Homo sapiens: one gene and its partner. The protein of the gene in region 1 interacts with the protein of each later gene in a biochemical or structural test. Each region holds a gene or a part of one and is shown on either strand. Other genes may lie near its edges.

What was found.
Region 2: the proteins of REG3A (region 1) and SDC2 form a complex in vitro, tested with the Homo sapiens proteins (one study listed by BioGRID).

What each region holds. Positions count from the first base shown.
Region 1 is NC_000002.12:79,156,754-79,164,172, reverse strand, and holds REG3A (regenerating islet-derived protein 3-alpha precursor), read left to right. Parts: upstream 1-4,419; 5' UTR 4,420-4,445; exon of another isoform or gene 4,446-4,733; 5' UTR 4,734-4,767; coding exon 4,768-4,843; intron 4,844-5,403; coding exon 5,404-5,522; intron 5,523-5,709; coding exon 5,710-5,847; intron 5,848-6,474; coding exon 6,475-6,601; intron 6,602-6,879; coding exon 6,880-6,947; 3' UTR 6,948-7,167; downstream 7,168-7,419. UniProt on the Homo sapiens protein: Acts as a hormone in response to different stimuli like anti-inflammatory signals, such as IL17A, or gut microbiome. Secreted by different cell types to activate its receptor EXTL3 and induce cell specific signaling pathways.
Region 2 is NC_000008.11:96,587,809-96,594,833, reverse strand, and holds part of SDC2 (syndecan-2 precursor), read right to left. Parts: intron 1,355-7,025; coding exon 1,243-1,354; intron 1-1,242. UniProt on the Homo sapiens protein: Cell surface proteoglycan which regulates dendritic arbor morphogenesis.

The DNA of each region.
Region 1 (7,419 bases):
ATATTGAAGCCAAAAGAGCTGCAAGACAGGACCCTCCATCAGAAATGCTTATAGAGGGACCCCTAGTGTGGGGTAACCCCCTCCAGGAAACCAAGCCCCAGTACTCAGCAGGATGAATAGAATGGGGAACCTCATGAGGACATACTTTCCTCCCCTGAGGATGGCTAGCCACCAAAGAAGGAAAAATACTTTTGCCTGCAGCTAACCAATGGAAATTACTTAAAACCCTTCACCAAAACTTTCACTTAGACATTGATAGCACCCATCAGATGGCCAAATTATTATTTACTGGACCAGGCCTTTTCAAAACTATCAAGCAGATAGTCAGGGCCTGTGAAGTGTGCCAAAGAAATAACCCCTGCACTGCAGGCCATACCTTTCAATCCCTGTACCTTTAACCTCCTTGTTAAGTTTGTCTCTTCCAGAATCGAAGCTGTAAAACTACAAATGGTTCTTCAAATGGAGCCCCAGATGCAGTCCATGACTAAGATCTACTGCAGACCCCTGGACTGGCCTGCTAGCCTCATGCTCCAATGTTAATGACATTGAAGGCAACTCTCCCGAGGAAATCTCAACTGCACAACCCCTACTACACCCCAGTTCAGCAGGAAGCAGTTAGAGCAATCATTGGCCAACCTCCCCAACAGCACTTGGGTTTTCCTGTTGAGAGGGGGGACTGAGAGCAGGACTAGCTGGATTTCCTAGGCTGACTAAGAATCCCTAAGCCTAGCTGGGAAGGTGACTGCACCCACCTTTAAACACGGGGCTTGCAACTTAGTTCACACCTGACCAATCAAGTAGTAAAGAGAGCTCACTAAAATGCTAATTAGGCAAAAACAGGAGGTAAAGAAATAGCCAATCATCTATCACCTGAGAGCACAGCGTGGGGGACAATGATCAGGATATAAACCCAGGCATTTGAGCCAGCAATGGCTACCCTCTTTGGGTCCCCTCCCTTTGTATGGGAGCTCTGTTTACACTCTATTAAACCTTGCAACTGCAAAATATATATATATATATGAAAAATAATTATAAAATTGGTAATGGAGAAGCATGGAAATAAGTGGGACTGAGGAATAACATAAATGGACTACTATTTATTTATCATTTTATTAATATTATTTTTTAAAATAATATTAATTATTATTATTTATAATTTTATTATATTTATCATTTTATTAATGATATTATTTATTATATCATTTATTATTTATCATTTTATTAATCATTAATATTAATGTATTATTTATCATTTTATTAATATTAATTTGATTGTATTACTTCTTTTTGCTTCATTTCTCTAAAAAATAAAGCTAAAAAAGATGGCAAGATATTATCGCTGTAGATTCTAGATGGTCAACCTATACTTGTTTGTTAAATGTTTTCTGTATGATAAAGATAATTTATTACAAAAAGAAAAGCAACATGACTATGGAATTATTTCTTATTTTTATTTTTATTTGCTACCACAAGAAATGTGAACTCTGATACATTGTGAACAGTTCAGATCTGCAAAATTATCACCCACAAGCTGTTTGAGTATGATTTATGGTAATTAATTGAAAACATTATCTTAATTTTTTCCCAAATGAACATTTTGTATTATAACTAGCTTATTCTAAAAGAAAAATCAATAAAAAGCAATAGCCTTTTTAAAATACCCAAATAGATAACGTTAGAAGAGCAAACATGATATGAACAGGGAACTCTTCCAAGATCAATGTGAAAATTTGAAACCAAATAAATATTAACACAGTTTTCTGATAAAAATTATTGCCTCCAATAACTGCACAGGTCATATGATAGTTACTGTTCATGGCTTACGTATAATTGACCAAATTTCAGTAGCTATGTTATCAGCTTTCCAGTTCTTTGATGTTAATAACTTCCCTCATTGGCCTCAGGGGCTTTGAAGTTTTGTCCCTTTTTCCTGTTTTATAGTTGCTCAGCACCTAATCTTATCCCTTTCCCAATTCTTCTGACAGTGTTAGGATAAGATGAAAGGACCAAAGTGGCATTCTGGACATCTGGTTAATATATCTCAAAGGGGTGCACTTTAGTGATAAATCTCCAGTGAGATACAGTTCAAGGCTATTTTTGACATGGACCCTGCTGAGCCATCTTCCAGGAAACCTCTACATTTTACCATCCTTGAAACAAATATATTAGGCTCCTGCAAAGAGATCAGTTTTCACTTTTATAATTCTAAGAATGACTACTAAGTCTTATCTGCAAATATCTGATTCAGAAGATAATAGGGATAAAAGTACAAATTGGACATCTTTTGGCAAAGGAAGCTCCTTAAAACTCAGCCTTGGTTACATCAAGAATAAGAATTCCTGTGTCATCCCTAAGAAGTAGATTTTTATATAACTCAAAACCAGCTCAAGAAATATAATATTTAAACAAACTTCTCAGTGCTTGGTTAATAAGCATTGTTATGAAGAAACAATGAAAAATAAAACAAAAACAACTCAACTTTAGTGAGTTTAGTGAGTGTCATTGCAAAGAAAATTTCACATTGCACTTAGGGATTTTATAACCTTAAGGCTTATTACAAAGGTCACACTATTTCAATTAAGAACAAAAGTGAGTTTTAATAATAAACTGTCAGCATTTCAAATCTTCTCTCCTAGGTATCTTGAAATATACAACATATTGTTGTTAACTATAGTCACCCTATGTGCTATCAAAAGCTAGAACATATTCCTCCTATCTAGCTGTATGTTTGTACGATGAACTAAACTCTTTTCATCTCCCCTCACCCGTCTCAGCCTCTGGTAACTATTCTACCCTCTGGTTACCTTCTACCCCGTACCTCCATGTGTTTACATATTGTTGTATAAATTTTGTGGAAAAAAATCCTTTTTAACAAAATAATCTGCTGGCTATATTTCTTCTCATATTATTTGAGGAATTGCATTGAATTTTGGGTACTGAATTTTGAGGACGTGAATTAAGGATGAGCTACATCTCATGACCTCGTCACAGACCCCTACTATAAACATCTGCATACAAGTTGGCATATTACAACAATAGCATGAGAGTCAGGGTCTGTAGAAATTCCCAGCCTAACTTTTTCCTGGACTGGCCAAACTGAACCTGAACCAGTGTATGGGCAATGTAGTATGCTTGTCAGAGGCACCAAACTGCTAACTCAAAAATAAACATGACTAAAAGAACTTCTCCCAGTATACCCATATGAAGCTGACCATTTGCCCAGTAAGAATGCAATGAAAAGGGCTTTTAATGTACAGCCAAATGGCAGTCCAGCAAGGAAGCTCATGAGCAACCTACAAGTAGTGAGCATTTTGATGTAATAGAGACTTACATGCAATTCAGAATTATGTTTACAACATCACAAAACAAAAATTTAGAGATAGGCTCTCACTCTGTTGCCTAAGCTGGAGTGCAGTGGGATGATCATAACTTACTGCAGCCTTGAACTCCTGGGTTCAACTGAAGGTCCTCCTACCTCAGCCTGCTGAGTAGCTAGGACCACAAGCACACACCACCGCAACTGGCTTAAATTAAAATATAAATTGTAGAGATAGGGTCTTAATGTGTTGCCCAGGCTGCTCTTGAACTCCTTGCTTCAGGTGATCCTCCCACCTCAGCCTCTCAAAGTGCTGGGATTATAGACCTGAGCCACAGCACCTGGCCAACTGACCTATGATTTTACACAATGGCTGCTCTTCCCTTCTTTAACTATTATTCATTCTTCTTTGATCCTCATTATTTGACTGTAGTCCTTCTTATGTCTTGTTTTCCTTCATTACCTCTTATTCTATCACATTGCCATTGTCATTCTCCACTGGGGAAGCTCTTTCTTGCTGAAGACTGGAAAGACAAGTCCATTCACCTGATTTTCTGTAAGATTGTGGCTCATGTATTGACTTGTCAGACAATTCTGAAGTTTCATCAAAATTAGCTATCATGCTTGCATAATGGCCCTGAACCCTCACTCCTACTCTTAGCTTCAGTACCATCTATGTCCTCAACTGTCCATGATACTTATAATTCCCGTAAATCTTCACTTAACACCTAACATTTATTTAATCTTACTAGGCAAGGTAATAAGAAATACATAGGTTTGCCTCCAGAAGTGGGTTCTTAAGAAACCCACCAGAGGAACTCCTCTTTCAGATGTCCACATTAGAAGATTTCATATCACATTTGGTGCCACAGGCCTTTGACAAGGAGGATGCAGAGGAAAAAGCAAACTTCACCTCTTCCTAGGGAAAGTGTTGGCCTGCCAACAGGAAAGAGGCAACATCTGGGAAAATCCCCAGTCTTTGCCAGGAAGAGTCCATGCCAACCCCACCCCATGACCCCTGTCCTGCCTACTCATTGTCACTCTTCACTCCAATGTCCCTCCCCCAGATCCTCTTATAAAATCCCACTCTTTCCTGACCAGACAAACCATACCATATCCCACCAGAGAGGTAAGTGGGAGCTGAGAGAAGATGAGACCCAGGGAGGAGCTACTGCACATGACACAGGAGAATACATGGGAGGGTCCCTTCCTCAGGGAGCACAGGAACTCTGAGACTCAGCAAGGGTGTCCTGGGAGGGCTCGGGGATGGGAGAGTACACAGATTCACAACTCATTCAGAACTGTAGAAGATGATGGATGTGACCAAGATCACTTTAGTCCTAGGGGACTAGAGAAGGAAAATGACATGAGGCAGTGGGGTATCTGTGTGTTCTCCCACTGACCACGCTTTCTTTAGTGACTCCTGATTGCCTCCTCAAGTCGCAGACACTATGCTGCCTCCCATGGCCCTGCCCAGTGTATCTTGGATGCTGCTTTCCTGCCTCATGCTGCTGTCTCAGGTTCAAGGTGAGATTGCTTTGCCTCTAGCACTGGGTTCCCTATGAATCCTCAGAGCTAACAAGAGGAGGAAGGCTCCTGTGTGTCATGTGAGGTAATGACGTGGTGTCTAATGAACCTGCCTGCAGTTCTTGCATCATCTCTCCTTCCTTCAGGTTAACTTGCAGTGGGAGGCTCCATGGTGGTCCACTAACAGTGGAATGAGATGGCTTCCATTTAGTCAGTGGACTCTAATATACACTGGTGGGAAAGTGGACTCTAATATACACTGGAGGGTCAGTAATGAGATGTGGGGAGGGACAATGATTGGAGGACCCAATGTAGAGACAGCCCAGAGTGAGGAGAGTATTGAATGGTTGAATAAGGGGAAAGGGTAATAAGAGACTGGATGGTGCTCCATTTACTACGGCTATTTTGAGATAAAGAATTTCTGAAAACATAAGGGAAGATGAAGGGGTGTCAGGAATGTGGTCTTCCTCCCCAAGGACATTCCTAGGTATTCCCCAAGGTCATCTCCCACCCCAAGCCCCACTCTTCATTTTACCCTCCCCCCTCTTCTTCCACCTCAGGTGAAGAACCCCAGAGGGAACTGCCCTCTGCACGGATCCGCTGTCCCAAAGGCTCCAAGGCCTATGGCTCCCACTGCTATGCCTTGTTTTTGTCACCAAAATCCTGGACAGATGCAGATGTGAGTGGTTAGATGTGGTGTTGGAGGTGACCGGTCTCAGGGGGAGGAGGGTCTCCATTCAGGAGAGTTCCTTGGGAATGAGGATGAACACGTTTATCTTTCACACAGTCCTCCTCCCACCTACCTTTGCCCTGCCCTCCCTCAGCAGGTCTCAGGCTCCCTCTCATTCTCTTTGTTGCCCTCAAAGCTGGCCTGCCAGAAGCGGCCCTCTGGAAACCTGGTGTCTGTGCTCAGTGGGGCTGAGGGATCCTTCGTGTCCTCCCTGGTGAAGAGCATTGGTAACAGCTACTCATACGTCTGGATTGGGCTCCATGACCCCACACAGGTGCCAGTATATCCTCCCCTCTCTGTTACCTCTCAAGGTGCTATTGTTGCCCAGGCCCACTCCCTGTCCCCTGTGCCTGCCCAGGAAGTACTTCAGGGAGCACTGGAGCTCAGATTCTGGGGAATATTTGGGGGGAAAGGGAAGGCCATGAAGCATCTGAAGATCTGAGTTCTGTGGAGGTCTCTATCTTTCAGATAAAATCAATCTGCCTTCCTCAGGCGTATTACATAATTCTCATATGAGGCTGGGTTAACAATTCTCTGAGCTTCATGGAGTCTTTGCCTACTATTCTGAAGGAACTCTTAATGAAGATAGGATCAATTTTTGTCCCCATACAGAACTGACATTACTTTTGAGGTTCACAAGCTAATCACAAATGCTACATCAATTATTGTTCTGCAAATAATATATTACCTTGAGTTGTTCCAAAGGTCTTATGTTTATTGGCTGGAATTTTCCAATAGCAATGAGGAGTCAAGGAAGAGTTTCCTACTCACCGGCAGCATCTGGAATAGCAGACCAACTTTCCTCATGCTGGGGAGCAAATCAGGTGTTGCAGCTAAGGGGCCATGCAAGAAGAGCTGCAATGGCCATTCCCTTCACCTGGCTACCTCCTCTACTCTACAGGGCACCGAGCCCAATGGAGAAGGTTGGGAGTGGAGTAGCAGTGATGTGATGAATTACTTTGCATGGGAGAGAAATCCCTCCACCATCTCAAGCCCCGGCCACTGTGCGAGCCTGTCGAGAAGCACAGGTAAGAAACAGAGGAGCTGCCTCTTCCCAGTGTTTTCCATCTCATCCCCCATTCCTGGGTCTGACCTTCAGGAAATCTTCCTGAGCTAGAAAATACAATGTTAGTGTGTCTTCTCTTATCTCCTCTCTTCTCCACTTTCTTTGAATCTCTCTCCTGGATTGGGACACTGGTGAAGGTGAGGGAGAGGCTTTAACTTCTAGGCTAAAACCTGGGATGCCCCTTCATTGGATTCACAAGCTTCCTCAGCCCCATTCCATTTATGTCTTCTGTCTCTCCAGCATTTCTGAGGTGGAAAGATTATAACTGTAATGTGAGGTTACCCTATGTCTGCAAGTTCACTGACTAGTGCAGGAGGGAAGTCAGCAGCCTGTGTTTGGTGTGCAACTCATCATGGGCATGAGACCAGTGTGAGGACTCACCCTGGAAGAGAATATTCGCTTAATTCCCCCAACCTGACCACCTCATTCTTATCTTTCTTCTGTTTCTTCCTCCCCGCTGTCATTTCAGTCTCTTCATTTTGTCATACGGCCTAAGGCTTTAAAGAGCAATAAAATTTTTAGTCTGCACTTGTTTGTCTTGTATATGCCAGTGTCATAGCCATACTCTGAGAAGGACAAAGTGTTTGAGTGGAGGAAACTTTATGGGTCTTGCTTCTTCCCTATTCACCCAGGCCTCTAGGGAAAATGATGAAGTGTGCATCCCTACCAGTGTGTTATGATGAGGGTGTGGGTCCTGCTCATGTAGGATTTGTGTTGTGGAGAGATGAGGACATTTCTCTCCCGCGTACTTACTGCCCTCCCATTCCCGTAGCCCAAACC
Region 2 (7,025 bases), on another chromosome or scaffold:
GCCACCATGTGAAGAAGTACATGTTTGTTTCCCCTTCTGCCATGACTGTAAGTTTCCTGAGACCTCCCCAGGCATGCTGAACTGTGAGTCAACTAAACCTCTTTTCTTTTATAAATTACCCAGTCCCTGTGTTGTTAGCAGGGTGAGAATGAACTCATACAGGGGCCATTCTGAGAACAGGGGAAATATTCATCAATTATGGTAGATTGTAAATGTGACCAGAATCCCTTAATCCTCCGTGTATACATATCCTCTGTAAATGTGACTTTATGAATCCTTTCACTAAGAGGTGGAGTCTGTTCTGGCCTTCTGACTTGCTTCAACCAGTAAAATGTAGTAAAAGTGATGCTGTGCCCAGTTCTAAGGCCTGGCTGCAAGAGGCTTTGCACACTTCTACTTGCTGTTACTGTGAAAAAATAGCTTGCCTACTGGAGAATGAGAGACCACACGAACAGAACCCAAGTCTGCTCAGCTGCCCCAGGGATATGAGTACCCGAAAGCTGCAAACCCAACCTAAAGCTGTACACTCAACCGGCAGCTGACCACTGACATGTGAGGGAGCCCAGCCAGCCCAGCCTACATCACCAACCTACAGAATAATAAGTTAAATGAATGACTGTTACTTTAAGCCACCAAGTTTTGGGGTGGTTTATTATGTAGCCTTAGAGTGGTAACAGATAACTATTAAGGAATAATATACTAAGGAATCTGATCATGTCACTACATAATCATTTTACTTGGCTGCTGCATTTTCCTCCTACAATACCCTAGGAATAAAAACGTATTAACTTCTTGGTCTCATCTACAATTTTTAACATAGGGTAGGTGGTTTTATGAAACCAGTGTTTGAGGGATTTCTTGAAGGGTGGTTTCCATGACATCACTCTGAAAGTCTTAATACGATTAAAAGCTAATGTTGACAGAGCACTATGTGCCAAGCCCCCAAATCTAAGAGCTTTAGATGTGTCAACTCCCTTTTAATCCTCACAACAACTCTATGGTAAGGACTATTGTTACTTTCCATTTTATAAAGGAGGAAACTGAGGCTCAGCAAATAAATTCTCAAGATCTCACAGCGTAAGTGGCAGAGAGAGCTAGAATTAGCACCCAGGCCCTTTGATTCCAAAGACGGTGCCCTTAACCACTGTGCATCCTGCCTGTCTCCTTGAAGTAAGCACAGTAAAATGTGTGTGCGTGCATGCCTGGAGAATGAGGTCCAGTGTTTAGAAGCAGCCACCTTACCCGAGCCAGACGCAGAAGCGTAGTCATCGTCATCAATAGGATACACTCCTGAAGCTTCTTCAATGGAGCTGTTGTCAAGGTACATGTCTTTATCAGATGTCAGCTCTGCTCTCTGAGAAAGGAAAGACAAGGGAGTCAGGATGTTGAGAGATTAAGAAACACACTTGTATATCTGATTGTTCAGGTACATACTGCAGTGACTACCCCTCCCACTCCCACAGTAGTCTGAATCCACATCTCTGGCCACAGTCTTCCTCAGGCACCCTGACAACTTAACAGCAATTTGAGAGGTGAGCACGGACTAATAACCTGCAAGGGAAGCCTACACAGCTTAAACCAGTAGAATGAAAACATTTCGGAGATCTAAACTCCTATCTTGGGCTTATTTTGTTGCATTCCACTAAACTTACCTGACTTTCAGCCATCCCAATGCTAGTTATAAGCCATCTTGGGCATTCTCTTTGTCACTCCCTTACTGGAAAGGGAACAAAACACTTAGGACTTTCTTGGGGATGTATGCAAAGGTATTACGGCTTAGCTTAGGCTAAATAATCACCCAGGGATCCATCAAATCCTACCAGTGCTTGCAGGCCTGGCAATACTCAGAACTTTACCGCTACAGATGAGAGATCCCCAGTCACCTGGGTCCTCAGGCCATGCAGGCCTTTCTACCCCAGCCCAGACCTGTGCTGAGGCCAGCCACAGTGCCCGGAGAGGAGCAGCGCCCGTGAGGCTCACCTGACAGGGAGAAAGCCCACTGCACGCCTGCTTCTAGGGCTCATTGGCTTAGCAAAGCCTTAATGACAAATACAGATAAACCCACACGAGCACATTCTTTTTCTATTACTGGCAACTGGTAATAGCAAATCACACGCTTAATATGGAGAGGGATCAGTCACTAAGTATACCAGTTCCACAGCTTCTTAACTCTTCAGTAAGAGTTTAGTATTAAAATTCAACCTAATCCTGCCAAAAGAAGAACTTGCATGAACTGGAGACAGAGTAGAGGTATAAGACTTTAAAAAATGGTTTTAGTAAATTGATATTTTACTACCATTATCTCGCAAAAGCCCAGGAAAAAAATAATAAAGCAGACAGGCAGCTTTTAAACAACGCTTGTTTGGAAACAGGCAACACTCATTATTGCTCTATTTTTAAAAATCATATAGAATGTTTGCTCTTAACAGAAATTATAAAATAATGTTTCCCTTACTACACTGGCTTTCATTAGATTTAATCTTAAAATAAAATTTTCTCTTCCAGCAGTCGCTGTGATTGGAACCTTCCTAAGAGGACAGGTCCAACCCTCTGTAACAGTACCACTTTATTTTCTCAGGTTTCAGCAGCTGGCTAGCAAGGCTAAAGCACTTTAAACCTGAGCCCACATTCTCCACCAGGCCTCAGTGCCAACTGAAAGCAAAGCATGGGAATCTATTTTGTTTGAGCTATCACACTGGTGGATTCTGAGAACTGAAACCTTAGGGACTGGTGTTCCAGTGGCCTGGACCACCCTGAGCCAAGAGTGTGCTGCAACTTTTCTAGTAGAATGGTCAGAGCTTAACTCTGCAATCTGACGCCACCCTGTTTCACTGGTTTCCAAGGCTATCACCATTCCAGATTGTAATTCCCAAAGCTTGTGAACTGTGTCAGGAGCCCTGTGTTCTACAGCTCTATCATCAACTGCCTCCTCTTAGGCTCTCAGCTCCTTTAAAGGCAAGGCTTCCCTCCCCCAGTCACAGTGCCTGGCATATAGTAGATGCTCAGTAAACACCGCTTGGGTTGAACCACCATTCGTGCTCCCATGAAAAAGCCATTCTCCGTCCTGCTTGTCTTAAACTTTGTCCCATTTACTTCCCCTGGAGGACCTCCTGGTTTCTTCTCTCAAATCCTGGCTACTATGAAACAGGCTGTGACTTCTCCACTCCTTATACACCTCCTAATTATAAAGTACTATTTTAGGATTTTGTAGCATATGAACAGTTTAAGACATAAACCCTCACTGTTACTTTTCATTGTTTCATGTGCATTTTTCTTGCCCCTCAGCAGAGTACAACTCATTGAAGGCATGTTTTGAATGACCTGTGTTCTCTGTCCCTCTCAAAATGCATGGCCACAAAATAAATATTTGACTGAGATTACTTAAACCAAATTGGCCTTGGACTGAGGTTTCAGAGTTACATGTCACAAGACCTCCAGGATCCTCGTAGTTTAAAATCTCTCCATTTTAAGCCTAGGAGACCATCTGCCCCAAACCTCCTATAGCTTGCATTGCATCTATTTAAGTAACCTACAGTCTTAAAAGTAAGCAAAATATTCCCTTTCCATGTTAGAATCTTGTTTCCCTTTTCTTAACATTGAATGACTTTCATTTTCCTCTTGGCTCTGTCAATGAAGTTTGATGTGGCAAGGGTAATACTGAGATACTTAATCCCTATGTGTAAATTGAATTTCAATTCATTCGATGACCCAGTTGTCTGGACTAACACATCTGTCATGCTACCAGGCAGATGGGCCAAAAATGCCTCCCAGAGAATTCTAGCCACCTCACCGTTCAACCACACTGGCAGTCTGACAAGCCAACTGACTTCCTGGGACAGCCGTCAGGCCTGTATTTCAACAAGACTTGGGGTGGAAGTCAGGGTGTGTCTAGAGAAGCTGGCTTACCCTCAGCCACTCAGTTACTTGGGGTCTACAGGGCTCCCGGGTGGTCTCTGGGCTGACCAGATGTTTAATGTGTTTAAAGGCAGCCAAAAGTGTGTTTCTCTGTGATCCAGGGTGGTGAAAATAATTTTGAAATCAAAGTTCTCTCCCACTCTGATTTCAGGAGCACAAAGAACATAGGAGAAATTACCAATATCTTTCCATGAAGTCCAATTTAACATAAAGCAGGGCCCTTTTCACTCTGTAGCAGATAATGAATACCTCTATTGCCTTCCCCTTTAAAAAATAAAAAATAAAAAAAAACCCCTGCGCTCATGACAAATTCCTTTTATGAAGACTCCACACTCTGTTCTGAAAGGTTTCTGGAATGAACATGCCTAGGACGGGAAATGATTTATGCACCAATATTCCCTTGGGACAAGGAGACAAGCATCTCCTCAAGGCCATGAAAAGGGGTGAATTCGAAACTACCGATTTTACACCTGGCGAAATGTAGTCTGCTTGACTGAGGAGAAAACCTCGGGACATACTCTGCACACACTCCCTTACTCAATGGGACCGAGACGCTGGACGAAAGCAACTGGAAGGAAACGTGCAGAAGCACAAGTCCAGAGCTGCAGCCTGGCTGTAGGGTGTCATAACGAGGCTGTTTAATTTGGGACTGACCATCGCTGTGAGGCAGTGCCAATACTGTTGGCTAACAGGGTCCAGAGTACAAGCTGGGAGAAAAACAAAGCTGGTCTTTCAGACCTTTCCCTTTTGGCTGATGCAAGATGTGAATACAGGAGAGCAAAGGAAGGCTGTGGAAAGCAACAAGGTACGACCAAGAGGAAAATGTGCGGCAGACAGATAGAGGGTTCTGCGTAATGCCACATTCAGCCAGGGAAACTGAAGCACTACACTGCCTCCATAGATGAAATTCCCAGAGGAGAATGCGCATCTGATTCAGTTGTGTAAACCCACAATGCCTAGAAGGAAGGCAAGATACATACTTGTCTCCTATCTCCACCCCTTTGCCTCTGGCCCCCCGGCTCTGGCTAACTCATCATGTTGGGCCTGGACCTGGACTAAGGCCTCCTGACCTTGTCACTGCCCACGTCCGTGTCTTTGAAGCCATTCGATGCAGAGGGACTGTTCTTGAACTCAAACATCATCGTATCACTCTCCTGCCTTTATTGGCTCCCTGCCACATAGAGGATGACATAAAAACTCCTTAGTTGGGCCTAGCACAGTGGCTCACGCCTGTAATCCCAGCACTTTGGGAGGCCAAGGCGGGCGGATCACCTGAGGTCAGGAGTTTGAGACCAGCCTGGCCAACATGGTGAAACTCCTTTACCAAAAATTACAAAAATTAGGCGGGTGTGGTGGCAGGTGCCTGTAATCCCAGCTACTCGCAAGGCTGAGGCAGGAGAATCACTTGAACCTGGGAGGCAGAGGCTGCAGTGAGCCAAGACTGCGCCACTGTACTCCAGCCTGGGAGACAGAGCAAGGAGACTCTGTCTCAAAAAACAAACAACAAACAAACAAACAAACAAACAAACAAAACAAAAGTCCTTAGCCTGGAAAAAAGTTCTTTACCAAGTGGCCTCAGCTGCAGTTCTAGTCTCAGCTGCTGCTGCTGCTTCCTCTACCCAAACCCCAGGCACCAATACAAAAACACCAAGAAGAGATCTGGTGACACTACTTTCCTTCGTATTATACCCCTAAGAGGAAATAAACACCTTTAGGTTGGAAAATTGAGGACAGCGATGGTGATTTAGGCCTTCCACATTTGATGATAAAAATTTAGAGTTTGATAAAATGATTCAGCCCAAACTTATACGGTAGTTGTAATAAAAATGACAAGAACAAGTGTTAATTCAATACACAAAAGATCAAGTGTAGTAGAGTCTTGATGTAGTCAGAAACATCACAAACCTGTCCATTTTCTCAGCGAAGACAATTTGTAGGATAGCAACTGAACAAATCTATTTGTTTGATTTTTCTCATGTAGGTAAAACCTACACTGAACAAATACCATGTTTCAAACTGCCAGTGTGGAAATCTGTTATTTAGAAATTCAAAGCCTTGTTTAAAAAACACAACGCCTTACCTACTAAGCAGAGGTCCTGCACATGCTTTCAACCAGTGCAACCAACACAGTGGTCAAAATAATTAAAGCTCAAATTAGTAAATGTCGAATTTACTTTATGGTTTTAACTCAGGTTAACAACGAAAGCAGAAGGTAGAAAACTTAATTATGGATAACTCAGACTCCCAGACCCAACTTTCAGAAAATTAGCCTTTGAACATAAAAATAAAATATCCATGTGGCCTAATAATACATTTCTGTATCACATCACAGACAACAAACATCTAGATGATGCCTCCTGTTTTACGGTAAAGGCAGTCCAACTCCAATTATGACTCAAATGTATATTAACTTTTATGATGATTACAAAGTGCCAAAAAGGCTATAACTGTAGCTTATCTTTCCATAGGTGACTCAGTAAACTATTTTATTACTAGCAACACACATTGTAAAGGAAATAATAATTAGCTAAAAATTTATGTCACCCACACAGTCACTCAGAGATGATATACCTGTCCTTAAGCTAAACTTGTCAATTCTGGCTTAGGTCTAGCCCAAAGGAACATACAATTTTAGAGCTTGACTGGACACTATAGTCACCAAGATCACTGATTTATTTCACAAATGAAGAAACAGAACACCAGAGTAGCAAAGTAGCTCAAAAGTCCTCTGGTCTAGCTGGTGGCCAAACTGGAGCCCGAAGCTCTTGACACCTAAGTGTGGGCTCTTTCTGCTGCACTGTCATGCCCCACAACATGAGTGACATCAGACCATTCAGCCTCGGGTTCAAAAGGATTAGCTGTGGCTGTTAGGTGTTTATTACGTGCCAGGCATTTTGTGCTTAGCATTTTATTAAGCATTGGCTCATCTAATCATCTCAACAATCTCCAGGGCCTACCCAGGAGATTGTTGCCTGAAATCATACAGCTCCAAAAGTAGGGACTTGGGACCTCAAAATGTATGTCACTGAGCATGTTCAACATGCTGCCTACCTCGTCCCTCCCTTTTCCTGTGATTCACACATAATAATAATAAAGGACTGGGGAAGAAC